Homo sapiens: one gene and its partners. The protein of the gene in region 1 purifies or fractionates together with the protein of each later gene. This does not show direct contact. Each region holds a gene or a part of one and is shown on either strand. Other genes may lie near its edges.

What was found.
Region 2: the proteins of EVL (region 1) and TACC3 purify together in Homo sapiens (affinity purification with mass spectrometry; 2 studies listed by BioGRID and IntAct, with this or other methods). This does not show direct contact.
Region 3: the proteins of EVL (region 1) and TRMT61A purify together in Homo sapiens (affinity purification with mass spectrometry; 2 studies listed by BioGRID and IntAct, with this or other methods). This does not show direct contact.
Region 4: the proteins of EVL (region 1) and ETFRF1 purify together in Homo sapiens (affinity purification with mass spectrometry; 2 studies listed by BioGRID and IntAct, with this or other methods). This does not show direct contact.

What each region holds. Positions count from the first base shown.
Region 1 is NC_000014.9:100,141,579-100,144,736, reverse strand, and holds the end of EVL (ena/VASP-like protein), read right to left. Parts: intron 3,002-3,158; coding exon 2,944-3,001; intron 1,037-2,943; coding exon 999-1,036; 3' UTR 501-998; downstream 1-500. UniProt on the Homo sapiens protein: Ena/VASP proteins are actin-associated proteins involved in a range of processes dependent on cytoskeleton remodeling and cell polarity such as axon guidance and lamellipodial and filopodial dynamics in migrating cells.
Region 2 is NC_000004.12:1,731,521-1,735,020, forward strand, and holds part of TACC3 (transforming acidic coiled-coil-containing protein 3), read left to right. Parts: intron 1-3,500. UniProt on the Homo sapiens protein: Plays a role in the microtubule-dependent coupling of the nucleus and the centrosome. Involved in the processes that regulate centrosome-mediated interkinetic nuclear migration (INM) of neural progenitors.
Region 3 is NC_000014.9:103,532,196-103,534,884, forward strand, and holds part of TRMT61A (tRNA (adenine(58)-N(1))-methyltransferase catalytic subunit TRMT61A), read left to right. Parts: intron 1-386; coding exon 387-653; intron 654-2,354; coding exon 2,355-2,626; 3' UTR 2,627-2,689. UniProt on the Homo sapiens protein: Catalytic subunit of tRNA (adenine-N(1)-)-methyltransferase, which catalyzes the formation of N(1)-methyladenine at position 58 (m1A58) in initiator methionyl-tRNA.
Region 4 is NC_000012.12:25,201,737-25,205,236, forward strand, and holds the end of ETFRF1 (electron transfer flavoprotein regulatory factor 1), read left to right. Parts: exon of another isoform or gene 1-2,096; intron 2,097-2,183; 5' UTR 2,184-2,220; coding exon 2,221-2,271; intron 2,272-2,354; coding exon 2,355-2,576; 3' UTR 2,577-3,407; downstream 3,408-3,500. UniProt on the Homo sapiens protein: Acts as a regulator of the electron transfer flavoprotein by promoting the removal of flavin from the ETF holoenzyme (composed of ETFA and ETFB).

The sequences.
Region 1 (3,158 bases):
TGGCCCTGGTTCCTTGAAGCTGAGGGTCAGAACCTCTGTCTCTGGCTGCTGCCTCAGGGCAGGGGCCTGGGACAGCCCATTGCAGGCCAGGTGGTCCTCCCAGGAGACTTTGTGGGGCCGAGGAGAAGGCAAAGCTGCCTTGCATTTGCCTGGTGCCTGCTAAGCCCCAAGTCCATCCCTCCCCTGAACAGGACGCTCGCAGGGCCCTGCCCGTCAGAATGCACGTGGAGTCCTCTGAGGTTCGGGGGTGTGGGTTGCACTTGAGGGACCATCTTCCTGGAGATCCCGTAGGGAGTTCCCTACAGGCAGGACCTGAGGCCCAGCCCCAGGACACCACCCCACCTTCCCGGGGCTTGGGAATGTTCTGAGCCCAGCTTCCTGTCGAAGACCGCCATCTTGCTCCTACGACTCCTGGTCACCGTGGTCCCGGGCCCTTCTCTGAAAAGGGGCATCCCCAGCCCGGAGCGTGATGGACCAATGCGAGGGCCTGAGCCCGAGGGTGCGGACAGTAAACCGTTTATTACTGTGTGGACACAGACACCGTGGTGCATGACAGACAGTTTCAACACCATGAGCGCTGGGGACGGAGCTGTGCCTGGACAGCTCTGCGGTGTGTGGTGGCGCCACGCTGGGCCGGCTGTCACCGCCAGCTGAGGCGCTAACAGCGTCACCTGGGAGAAAACCTGGAAACCGTCTAATGAAGCAGGTGACTTAGGGGCGTCTCTAGAAACCCAAAGAAATGTACCTTAAATAAGCAAATATAAAACACAAAAAAGACGAGCAGACCTGGTGTTCCGTGTCAGGCAGAATCTAAAAAAACCCAGGAGTTGCACTTGGTTTCCTCACTGTCATGTGTGATCACAGGTCAGGACGTTTCACAGCAGCGCGCCCAGGCTCCTGTGCGTGCTCTGGTGCACTGGAGTCTGGGGCTGGCTGGGCTTCTGGCTGTCCTCTGTCGCCGGATGGGCTCGACGAATCAGCGCAGCGAGGCCGGCCCCTTACGTGGTGCTGATCCCACTCAGCTCCTGCCTGATGGCTGCGGGACAGGTGGCGGCGGCTCAGGTGCAGCCATGACCAGTGCAGCCCGGTTCCTCATCAGGGCCCCGCACCCCTGGCGTGGACCTGCCTGGTATGTGTCCCTGTTCCATCTCCTGGGAGCCCCACCCAGGCTTTGGCATAGACCTCTGGGGTGATGACCAAAGGCTTTGGGTCTCATCTGCCATTCCTTCTGCGGCGGCCCCTGCTGCCACTGCCCTTTTAGGGGAGGACCTGGCGTAGGGACAGAGGCCTGTGCCCTGCCTGTGGCCTCACTGCTGCTGAGGAGTGCTGGGCACCAGAACTCTGGTGTGAGGAGCTGCTGTGTGGGGACGCAGGGTCTCTGTAGGCTCTGGACAGGTGGGTGTCCAGGTGCCGGGGGCCCGGGAGCCCTTCCCCCAACATAGTGGAGGCTGAGGCTCTGCCCTCCCAGCTCCTGCAGGGGTCAGCAGGAAATCTTGGCCCTGGACCCCAGGGACTGCCCTGGCTCTGCTCACTCCTCAGGAGAGGCAGGGTCCTCTCTTGCCTCCCCCCAGCTTCCTCATCACCCCAAGCTAGTGCTCCAACCCCCGGCCTCCCAAATTTGGGCCTTTCCCTCCTTCCTCTGGTATCCATCCCCTCCCGGACTCCCCCTCCTCTATGTCAACTCAGGCCTCTCTCTGGATGGACCTTGCTGGGCCAAGAGCCAACAGCCAGGAGAAGGTTGTGGGGGCTGGGGGATGGGAGCTGCTTCTCAGAGCCCCTGGTATGGCCCATGCCTACCCCCGGGCTCTCAGCCAGGGTGGGTTCCACCTGGGGCTGCACCCACAGCAGGTGGAGAGGCTGTGGTGGGCCCTGGGTTTCTGACCCAGCTATGCCTGGGGCCAGACGGCACCCAGCAGTAAGGCGGTGTGACCAGTTGGCTGAGTGCCTGCCTATCGCCCAGGCTGCCTCATTCCCCTCATTTGTTAACTCCTTATCTCCCCAGCCCAGGCCTTTGGGGGAACTGGACAAACAGGAACTGAGTGCTCTCTGCTCAAACAAGGGTGGGCCGGCTGGGGGAGGAGGCCTGGGTCTTTGGGCTCCCACCTGCCTCTTCCCTCTGCCATCAGCCTCCACCCCTGTGCGCTTGTGGGACCCTTTTGCCCCGGTCACTGTGATGCCCTGGGGGCCAGACCCAGCTACACACCCAGGTGTCAGCCTTTATCACCCTGGTTGGGGAGGCACGTGGGGAGCTGGCACTGGCTGTGCTGCATAGCTCGTCCCTAGACTGAGTCTGCCCTGCCCACTCCCCCTTTTCCTCTGGCTGCAGATCTGAGGCAGAGCATTCAAAGGCTCTGCTGGGAACCGGAAGGACGGATGTGATGCATTGAGACCCACCCTGCTCTGGAGCCAGAGGCTGCTCCCTGCCTGTTCCCCAGCCCAGGGCCAGGCAGGCTGTGAACGAGCTCAAGCCTGGAAGGTGCTTCTGTAGACCTTGGTCTTCCTGTACCCCCAGGAAGGCAGAGTGGTCACCTCAGAAGCCCAACACCAGTGACTGGAGGTGGCAGTATCAAGAAGGCAGTATAAACCGCCAGGGGGTGGAATGACAGCAGCTCAGGTGGCTCCTCCAGACCTGGCTCTGGAACGATGCTGGGGTCTCCCCTCCATGCTCTTCCCACGTGGGTCTTCCAGGAAGGTGCCGGGGATGTGGAAGGTCAGATTCGGGTGTCATGCTACCAGGGAGCTACAAATTCTTAGGCAAGCCACTTAGCTTTCAGCTTTCCTGAGCCTGTTTCCTCAACTAGAGATGGTAAGAATGAAATCTCTCACAGGGCCCAGTGCAGTATGGGCTCCAGCTCAAAACTGGAGGCCCCCAGCCTGGGTGACAGGGACCCTTGTCCTGCGGCCACACCTGGGTGCCACCCTCCCCGGTGGGGCTGCACTCACCGTCGATGATCTCCTCCTTCACCTTGTGGAGCTCTCTCACCACCTCCTCTAGGATCTCCTGTTGGGAGAGGAGTGTCCAGGTGAAGGGACAGGCAGTGGAGACGGAAAAGCCGGCCTGGGCTGGGCCATGTCCAAAGGGCTTGGGGTCTCCTGGGCCTCTCCAGAGTTGCATCTGTCACCCTTGTCTCCTCGTGGCCCCCTTCCCACGCTGAGGG
Region 2 (3,500 bases), on another chromosome or scaffold:
TGGAAACTGTAGACTCAGGAAAATGAGCAGGAGAGGTGAACAATGCAGTGCGCTAATGAGATACAAGTGTAGAGTCAACAACTGGATACTCGATCATCAGAAATACTGCTTGAAACGACCTTCTTTTTTTTTTCTGAGATAGTCTCGCTCTGTCACCCAGCCTGGAATGCAGTGGCACAATCTGGGTTCAATGCAACCTCCACTTCCCAGGTTCAAGAGATTCTCCTGCTCAGCCTCCCAAGTAGCTGGGATTACAAGCATGTACCACCACATCCAGCTAATTTTTGTACTTTTAGTGGCAACGGGGTTTCACCATGTTGGCCAGGCTGGTCTCAAACTCTGACCTCAAGTGATCCACCTGCCTCGGCCTCCCAAAGTGCTGGGATTGCACGCGTGAGCCCCCGCGCCCGGCCCAGAACCCCTTGATAATGAAATGTGAAGCCTGAACCTTAGACACCAGACTGCAGTTAAATACGGTTTGTCCGTAAGACTGGAGGCTGCAGTTGAATACGGTTTGTCCATAAGATTGGAGGCTGCACTTGAATACGGTTTGTCTGTAAGATTGGAGGCTGCAGTTAAACATGGTTTGTCCATAAGATTGGAGGCTGCACTTGAATACGGTTTGTCTGTAAGATTGGAGGCTGCAGTTAAATAAATACGGCTTGTCCGTAAGATTGGAGGCTGCAGTTAAATAAATACGGTTTGTCCGTAAGATTGGAGGCTGCAGTTAAATAAATACGGTTTGTCCGTAAGATTGGAGGCTGCAGTTAAATAAATACGGTTTGTCCGTAAGATTGGAGGCTGCAGTTGAATACGGTTTGTCCGTAAGATTGGAGGCTGCAGTTGAATACGGTTTGTCCGTAAGATTGGAGGCTGCAGTTAAATAAATACAGTTTGTCCGTAAGATTGGAGGCTGCAGTTAAATAAATACGGTTTGTCCGTAAGATTGGAAGGTGGAACGGTCCTTAAATTAAAGTGCATTTGGTAGGAATTGATGGCTGAGTTGTTTTAAAGGACACACAGCCAGGTGGGTATAAGATCTCAATTTAGAGAACTGAAAACCCAGGCACACAGCAGACACGAATGGCATGTAGGGTTTGTCGCTGACAGGATAGTTGTGGGCCGCCACCATGTGGGGATATCAGCTCAGCTGGGATGGGCCTGTCACCCTCACGCAGGATCCCTGGAATCACACAGCACGGCCTTCTGTGTCCGGCGTCTCCCTCGGGGAGGTGTGTTTCCGAGTCCTGGCCATGCTGGAGCAGGTGTGGGTGCTCCTGTCCTTGCCGTGGCAGCTTGGCTTCACATCATCTTATCCATTCATTCATGGATTTGCTGGTTTCTGCTTTTTAGCTGTCAGGAGTAGTGCTGCCTCGAATGTTCAGGTGTAAGTTCTATGTGGATGTATTCTTCCATTTCTCCTGGATACATAGCTAGGAGTGGAGTCGCTGGTCACAGTAACTCTGCTCACCTTTTAGCTACCAGGTGGCCTTCCAGAGTGGCTGCAGTGTTTCACATTCCCACTGGCAGTTATAAGAGAGCTCCAGTTTCTCCACATCCTCGCCAGCGCTGCTTGTCTGTCTTGTTGATCCTAGACTTCCAGCGGGTGGGAAGCGGATCTGGTTGCGGTTTTGATTTGCAGTTCCCAGGTGGCTCATGAACGAGCGTCTTTTTATGTGCTCGTTGGATATCTTCTTTGGGAAAGTGTCTGTCGAGATCCCTTGTCCATTGAGCCACTTATGTTTTTATTACTGAGTTTTAAGAGGTAAATCCCTTTTATTCAAGAAGTGAGGGAAAGGAAAAAATACAAAGTTAAGTCCCTTATCAGATGATGTTTCAAAGTATTGGCTTTTGGCCAGGCATAGGGGCCCACACTTGTAATCTCAGCATTTTGCGGGGCCGAGGCAGGATTGTTTGAGCCCTGTAGTTTGAGACTAACCTGGGCAACATGGCAAGACCTCATCTCTACCAAAAAAAACCTTTTTTTTTATTACCTGGCATGGTGGCGTACACCTATAGTCCCAGCTGCTCGGGAAGCTGAGATGGGAGGCTCGCTTGAGCCAGGAGGTCAAGGCTGCAGTGAGCCATGATTGCACTACTGCACTCCAGTCTGGGCGACAGCGAGACCCTATCTGAAGGAAAGAAAAAAAAGGCAGAAATGAAAACTGACAACAAGGCTAGGTGCGGTGGCTCACGCCCGTAATCCTAGCACTTTGGGAGGCTGAGGAGGGCGAATCACCTGAGATCAAGAGTTTGAGATCAGCCTGGCCAACATGGTGAAACCTCATCTCTACTAAAAATACAAAAATTAGCTGGGTGTGTTGGCACATGCCTGTAATCCTAGCTACTTGGGAGGCTGAGGCGGGAGAATCGCTTGAACCCAGGAGGCGGAGGTTGCAGTGAGCCGAGATGGCGCCACCGCACTCCACCTGAGCAACAGAGCAAGACTCTGTCTCAAAAAAAAAAAAAAGAAAAGAAAACTGACAAGGCCATAGCAGAGAAGGACCTACAAGTTTTTGCTAGACTAAATAATTGGCAACCGTTTTTTAGCTTAATTGAGAAAAGGAGAGAATGAGCAAATACTGCTAGGCATGAAGAAAGGGACAAAACTAGAGATGCCTCAGCCTGGATCTCAGCCAGATCAAGACCCTGTCTTAAAGTACCAGTTTGGTTTGTTTTTTTCCCGAGACGGAGTCTTGCTCTGTCGCCCAGGCTGGAGTGCAGTAGCATGATCTCAGCTTGTTGCAACCTCCGCCTCCTGGGTTCAAGCGATTCTCCTGCCTCAGCCTCCCAAGTAGCTGGGATTACAGGCTCATGCCACCGTGCCCAACTAATTTTTGCATTTTTCGTAGAGACAGGGTTTCCCCATGTTGGCCAGGCTGGCCTCAAACTCCTGACCTCAGGTGATCCACCTGCCTTGGCCTCCCAAAGTGCTGGGATTACAGATGTGAGCTACTGCGCCCAGCCACAGTTTAAGAGTTTTATAGTTTTAGAGGCCGAGACCGGAGGATCACTTGAAGTCAGGAGTTCAAGACCAGCCCTGGCAACGTAGCAAGACTCCTCCTCTACCAAAACAAAAAGTAGGATAGTTTTAACTCTCACAGTTAGGGTGTTGATCCATTCTGAGTTAATCTTTGTATGTGGTATGAGGCACCTTTTCTTTTTTTTTGCAACAGTTTTCCCTCCGCTGCCCAGGTTGGAGTGCAGTGGCATAATCTCAGCTCAGTGCAGCCTCCACCTCCCAGGCTCAAGGAGTTCTCCTGCCTCAGCCTCCCTGTAATAGGAGTGCAGCACCGCGCCTAGCTAATTTTTGTATTTTTTGTACAGACAAGGTTTTGCCCTGTTGAACTCCTGGGCTCAAGTGATCCACTCGCCTCAGCCTCCACCCTTAGTTTTAATCAAAAGTTATATTATCAAAAATTAAAAGACTTGTCTAGGGTAATTTTAAAGACTAATAGTTCTCAACCAGAGCAGTTTTGCCCCCGCCTTTCCCCAGATGT
Region 3 (2,689 bases), 3.4 Mb from region 1:
GGGCTGAGTGATGGGATGGCCTCCCTGTCCCCCTTGCACAGATTTCCCCGGAGGCTCCAGGCAGCTGGGCTGCTCTCATTCCCTATACCTGCGCTAGGCAGGATAGGGCAGGGTTGCCACTGGCCTCGCCTGTGCCCACAACAGACAGCACGGCATACACAGCCTGTCAACCCCAGCTCACCCCTAGACAGGGTGCCCAACCCAGGGCTAGCCTGGGGCTTTAGGCAGCCAGGACCATACAGCCCTGGAATGACGCCCACCTGTAGCTTGGGGTCCTCCCAAGCCCTGTGTGGGTCTCCAGGGTGAGGTGGGGGTTGTTTCCTGGGAGGCTGTGGGTCCCGAGCAGTCCCAACTGATGCCTTGCCCATCCCTTCTTGTCCTGCCAGGCACCGGCAGTGGCTCTGTGTCCCACGCCATCATCCGCACCATTGCACCCACGGGTCACCTGCACACGGTGGAGTTCCACCAGCAGCGGGCAGAGAAGGCCCGGGAGGAGTTCCAGGAGCACCGTGTGGGCCGCTGGGTGACTGTGCGCACCCAGGACGTGTGCCGCAGTGGCTTTGGCGTGAGCCACGTGGCCGACGCCGTCTTCCTGGACATCCCATCACCCTGGGAGGCCGTGGGCCACGCCTGGGACGCCCTCAAGGTCGAAGGTGCATCCGGGGTTCCGGGAGAGGTACAGCCTGGGTGGGGGTGGGGCAAGGGTGCAGGACTGAGCTCCTGGGATCTCAGAGGGGTCCAGAGACCAAGCCACACCATGGCAGTGGCCAGGCCAGGGCCCCACTTTGGCCTGAGGTGAGGAGTGGGTCAGGCTGGCCAGGGGAGGCAGAGCTGGGGAGGATGGTCCCTGGCTGGGCCCTGCTCCTGGTCTCTGGCCTCTCCCAACCCCCTGATGGAGGAAGGTGGCAGCGCCACCCAAGTGCAGGGCAGGCCCGGCCGGAGGAGTCTGGAGTCCCCTCCCTGCTGTTTCCCAAAACCTCTCCTCCCCCAGGCTCTGGAGCCCAGGGAGCTGGCCCCTTTTAGGGAAGATGCTGGGTGCGGAGGCGGGGCAGCCCTGGGGAAGGTCGGGCCTCAAGCCAGGGAGGTGGCTGGGAGGCCCAGGGTTTTTCCCTTTTCTGGAGAAGGAGCAGCTCAGGCAGCAGGGGCCCCTTCCTTCTTCCCAGCTGAGAGTTGTATTCTGAGAGGGTTGAAGGGTGGAGGTGCTGGGCGCCCCACCCCACCTCAAAGATGAGCCGAGGCCTGGTGCGAACAGCAAGGCTGTGGCCGGGGGTCCCCTGCTGGCTCCAGCCCAGCCCTGACTCCTGGGTCCTGGTCTCTGCTGAGGTGGGTAGCTGTGGGGATCTCCACACCCTGCCTCCTAGGCTTCCTGCTCTGGGGACACTTCTGGGCCTGGACCATAGTCCCAGGGAGGCTGAACCCGGCAGAGCCTCCCCTGGGGCCCCCCTGCTGCCTTTGTGACTCCTTCCTCCAGCGTGGCTCGGGGAACCCGCGCCTGCCTCTGGGACCTGTCCCTTTCCCTGCGAGCTCCCCCTTCTGGGTCCAAAGGCTCCTGGCTCATTCATGGGCCCGGCATCTCCTGCCGGCCACGGGAGCCCGCTGGGGAGGATGCGGCATGCTCAGCCTCTGTGCCCTGTCTAGGCTGTTGTCACACAGCAGGTGCCTCCTCTAACCCCGAACCTCCTGGCGGCCCCGTGTTAGGGTACAGCTGAGGAGACCAAACCTCAGGGACGTTTGAGGACACTTGCCTGGGCCACATACCTCTACCCGGCCCTGGCTTCCCCAGGTCCTCCCTGCCAGGACAGGGACCCGGGCTGGGTTCTCATTCACTGCAGGCCAGGCCAAGTGAAGCCCGTGGCTGCCCTGGTGGGAGGCGGCAGGGAGGGGCTGTCATGCTCGGGCTCTGCTTCGAGTAGGCGCCTCCTGTTCCCGGGAGCAGCGACAGCCTCTAATTTCCTGTGACAGCAGCGGCCCCCGCACCGCCCCACGCTGCCGTGCTGTCAGAGCTGCTCCGGGCCCAGAGCTCCAGCAGCCCTGTGGAAGGCAGGAGAGCAGTGCCCGCTGTGGGCCAAGTGAGACAATGGCAGCGCGGGCTTGACCCGGTGCCTGGCACATGGGAGGGCCTGGCATGGCTAAGCTGGGTGACATGAACAGCGGCGCCAGGCCCCATGGGGGGCTGTCAGTTGAGGGCCAGGCCCCTCTGCCCTGCAGTCCCAGCTCTTGGAGAGCTTGCAGTCTGTGTTGGGGCTGTCTTAGGCTGGCCTCAGACCCTAGGGTGGGAGTCCAGGGATGCTAGGGCCAGACGGGCCAGGCTCTGCCACCCCTGCCCTCTGACCCTCGGGTCCTGTTTCCCACAGGCGGGCGCTTCTGCTCCTTCTCACCGTGCATCGAGCAGGTGCAACGCACATGCCAGGCGCTGGCAGCGCGCGGCTTCTCAGAGCTGAGCACCCTGGAGGTGCTGCCACAGGTCTACAACGTGCGCACTGTCAGCCTGCCACCGCCCGACCTGGGCACAGGCACAGATGGCCCTGCCGGCTCCGACACCAGCCCCTTCCGCAGCGGCACGCCCATGAAGGAGGCCGTGGGCCACACCGGCTACCTGACCTTCGCCACCAAGACCCCAGGCTAGGGGGCCGCCTCCCAGGGCACCAGGGAGCTGGGAGCACTGAAGGGCTGGGCAGGGAGGCCAGAG
Region 4 (3,500 bases), on another chromosome or scaffold:
GGCAGGTGAGGTCACAATGAGAATCTACACTATTGTACTTCGGGGTTCAACCCAAACAGAAGTTAACAGGAGAACTTAAATTATGTAGCGCATGATTTTTAATTGAGTATGGTACTGTAATTTTAATCCACATTTTCTGCTAGTTAACTATAAAATAACCCTTAAAACTGATCTAAAAGCCTATTTTAAAAATATAAGTTGCGGCCGGGCACGGTGGCTCACGCCTGTAATCCCAGCACTTTGGGAGGCCAAGGTGGGTGGATCACAAGGTGAGGAGATCAAGACCATCCCGGCCAACATGGTGAAACCCCGTCTCTACTGAAATACAAAAAAAAAAAAAAAAAAAATTAGCCAGGCGTGGTGGCGCGCACACGTAGTCCCAGCTTACTGGGGAGACTGAGGCAGGGGAATTGCTTGAACCAGGGAGGTGGAGGTTGCAGTGAGCTGAGATGGCACCACTGCACTCCAGCTTGGGGACAGAGCAAGAATCCATCTCAAAAAAAAAAAAGTTGCTTCCTGCTTGCCTATCAGAGTAATTCAGTCCAAAAGTCATTACGTGGGGCTGAGCAAGGCAGGCATCTGGGGAAGGTGGGGGCGAGAGAAAGGCTGGCAAGGTAGTAGCCCAGCAGGGGATACTGGAGCCCAAATGCAGTGAGGAGGGCCTCTGGGGGTAGGGACTTGTGCACAGCAGCAGCCTAGCAGGGGATGAGGAGGGCATCCTATTAGGGTGAAGGAAATGGTGGCACAGGTTTTTGGAATGGGAACAAAAGGTGAGCCTTACCCAGGAGGGAGGAAATGGTGCAGTGTAAGTTGCTTGAGCCCAAGAAGGGTAGGTTGGGGGAAAGGGGGAAGAGAAGACCATGCATGTGGGATGGTGGCAGTGGCACTCTGGCATTAGGTGGCAGAGCTCAGAGAGTAGAGTGTGTGCGCCGAATGGTGACAGCAAGAGGATTTTGATTACATAGTGAGAGAAGGGGTGATGATTATAAAAAGTAAATTTATTAAGGACAAGTGGGAACCAGACTTCTCACTGTTCAGCAAGAGTATTAAACCCATGTAAAGAGGGGAAATGAAAATAAACCCTGTAGTATTGGAATTGAATGTTAGGTAGCAGATTATATGGAGATTAATATAAAAGTCATACACACATACAACACCTAAATCCGTATGTATATACACTTGCAGCTTTGTCACTTAGAGGACCTGGGAACAGTGACAGTCCCATGGTGATTAGCATTTTTAGCACCCAGACCTTGGTTTCTAAAGCATTCCATCCAGATTATAGTTTCTAAATGCTATTCTCCATTAAAAGGACTAGGTTCCTTGGAGAAATAATTTTACAATGGACAATCTTAGCAAATACATTAATTGGGTAATCAAAGTTATCAATCACAATGGAACAAATTGCAGTTGCATCCACCTGATAGGATGCAATGTTAAGAGCTTACTATTCAACTCTAACAGGTAGTGGGAATTATTTTCTAGGTTTAGACTGTCATGATGCCTTTAAGTTTGGAGCCTCCTCTACAAAGTAGAGTTAACACATTACACATAAAGAAGCATGATTTTGCCTGTTCCTCAGGGACACCCTCTTACAGGTTGTTCATTTGGCCTCTTCACCACCAATCTTACTGCCCATCTACTATTCCAACCTGCTTAACTCACCCAGTTTCTGCTAGTTTTCAGCCTCCCTTTGGATAAGCACCCATCAGCATTTGATCAGGCTTCTGCTCAATGTCCTTCAAGTGGCTCTGGCCTTGCCTTGAGAGCAGGGTAAAGATAATCTCTTGTTTGTTGATAAGGAAAACTCAGGCTCAGCAAGGTTAATTAATCTGTACATTATGCAACTGGAATTTAAATCTAGTTTAACTCATTCCACTGTGGCATAAAAGGAGGTACACGTACCTATCTGTGATGACAATCCACTTTCTCATTTCCTTCATGTGACTTCTCACAATCACAATTGTCTTTGCTTATGTCTCCCATAGGAAAACGTCAATTATGACAGCAGGTAATTTTATCGGAAGTGTTTATAACTATATCCCAGTACGTGGAACGAAAAAGTTATCAAGAAATATTTATTGAATGTAAAAAAGGTTACCATTTTCTCAATGTGTATAACCTTTTTTTATTTTTTTAAGACTACAATGCAGCTAATTGCAAAAAAATTTTCCTTTCTTTAGGTATGTTATGCATAAAAGTGGATAATTTACATGATAAATGAAAATGGCCAATTCTTTAAGAGGAGAAGTACTAAAACTTTATAAAAATGTAAGTAATTATGTTGCCAATTTTATAAAAATGTTATTATATGACATGGATTGTTTAGAAATATATAATCTTTCTTTTTGAAGCTGCTGTATCTTGGACGAGACTATCCAAAAGGAGCAGACTATTTTAAAAAGCGTTTGAAGAACATTTTCCTTAAAAACAAAGATGTGAAGAATCCAGAGAAGATCAAAGAACTTATTGCACAGGGCGAATTTGTAATGAAAGAGCTAGAAGCTTTGTACTTCCTTAGGAAATACAGAGCTATGAAACAACGCTATTATTCAGATACCAACAAAACTAATTGATCATTACTACTTTAATTTAGCTATCAGTGCCAGCTGTTTATGTATACCAGATGTTGTAAAATAATTCTAACTTAAAATGGGAAGATATACATGTTGTGTAAAAAATCCCTGAGCTGCCCTACTGAACTAAATAGGTTTCAACTTCTGTTCATACGGAGAAAGTATCAGCAACTTTATGCTCAATTTTGATACAAACATAGCAATTTAGCTATACTACCGATCATAAATTAATGAGCACCCAATTTTGAATGAAAATATAATACACTTAATCCTCTAACTTAATAGGACTTAGCCAATTATTTTTAGCTTATTTCTCCATTTTACTGACAAGAGAATGCCATTTACCGAACATTTAATAAGCAAAATAATTTCTTACACACTTACTTCTCTTAACTTTTGAAAGGAATCCCTTATTTTTTCACCCAATTTGGTATATTAACAGCACATACTCAAGGTTCACTACAAAACAAACAGTTCCTGGTAATGATTTAAATGTAGTTATAGAAATAAATAATATGTATGGAGTCATTACTTCTGACCTTGAAATAGCCTGCTGGTGACTGGCATTAACATACATAACTAACTATTCAATTATTTCCATTATTAATGTTGCTGCTGCTACCTTTGGGCCTAAAACCAAGTCACCTGTTGTGTATCAATTACCTTCTTTGATAAAAGGAAATAAATAAATAATGTTATCCTATTTTTTTGTCATAAAGGCAGATTTGTTTTGCATCTACTTCTAAATATGGTTTTAAGTTTAAGCAAACACGCCTTTACATAATATCCACAGCACCTTTTAGAAATAAAGGATACTTCTAACAAGCTGCATAAAAGATTCACTGGTATACTATAGTGTCTATGGCTTATAAAGTATTCCATATCCATTTCGGGGCAAACAGTTCAAATTTCATGAATAAATAC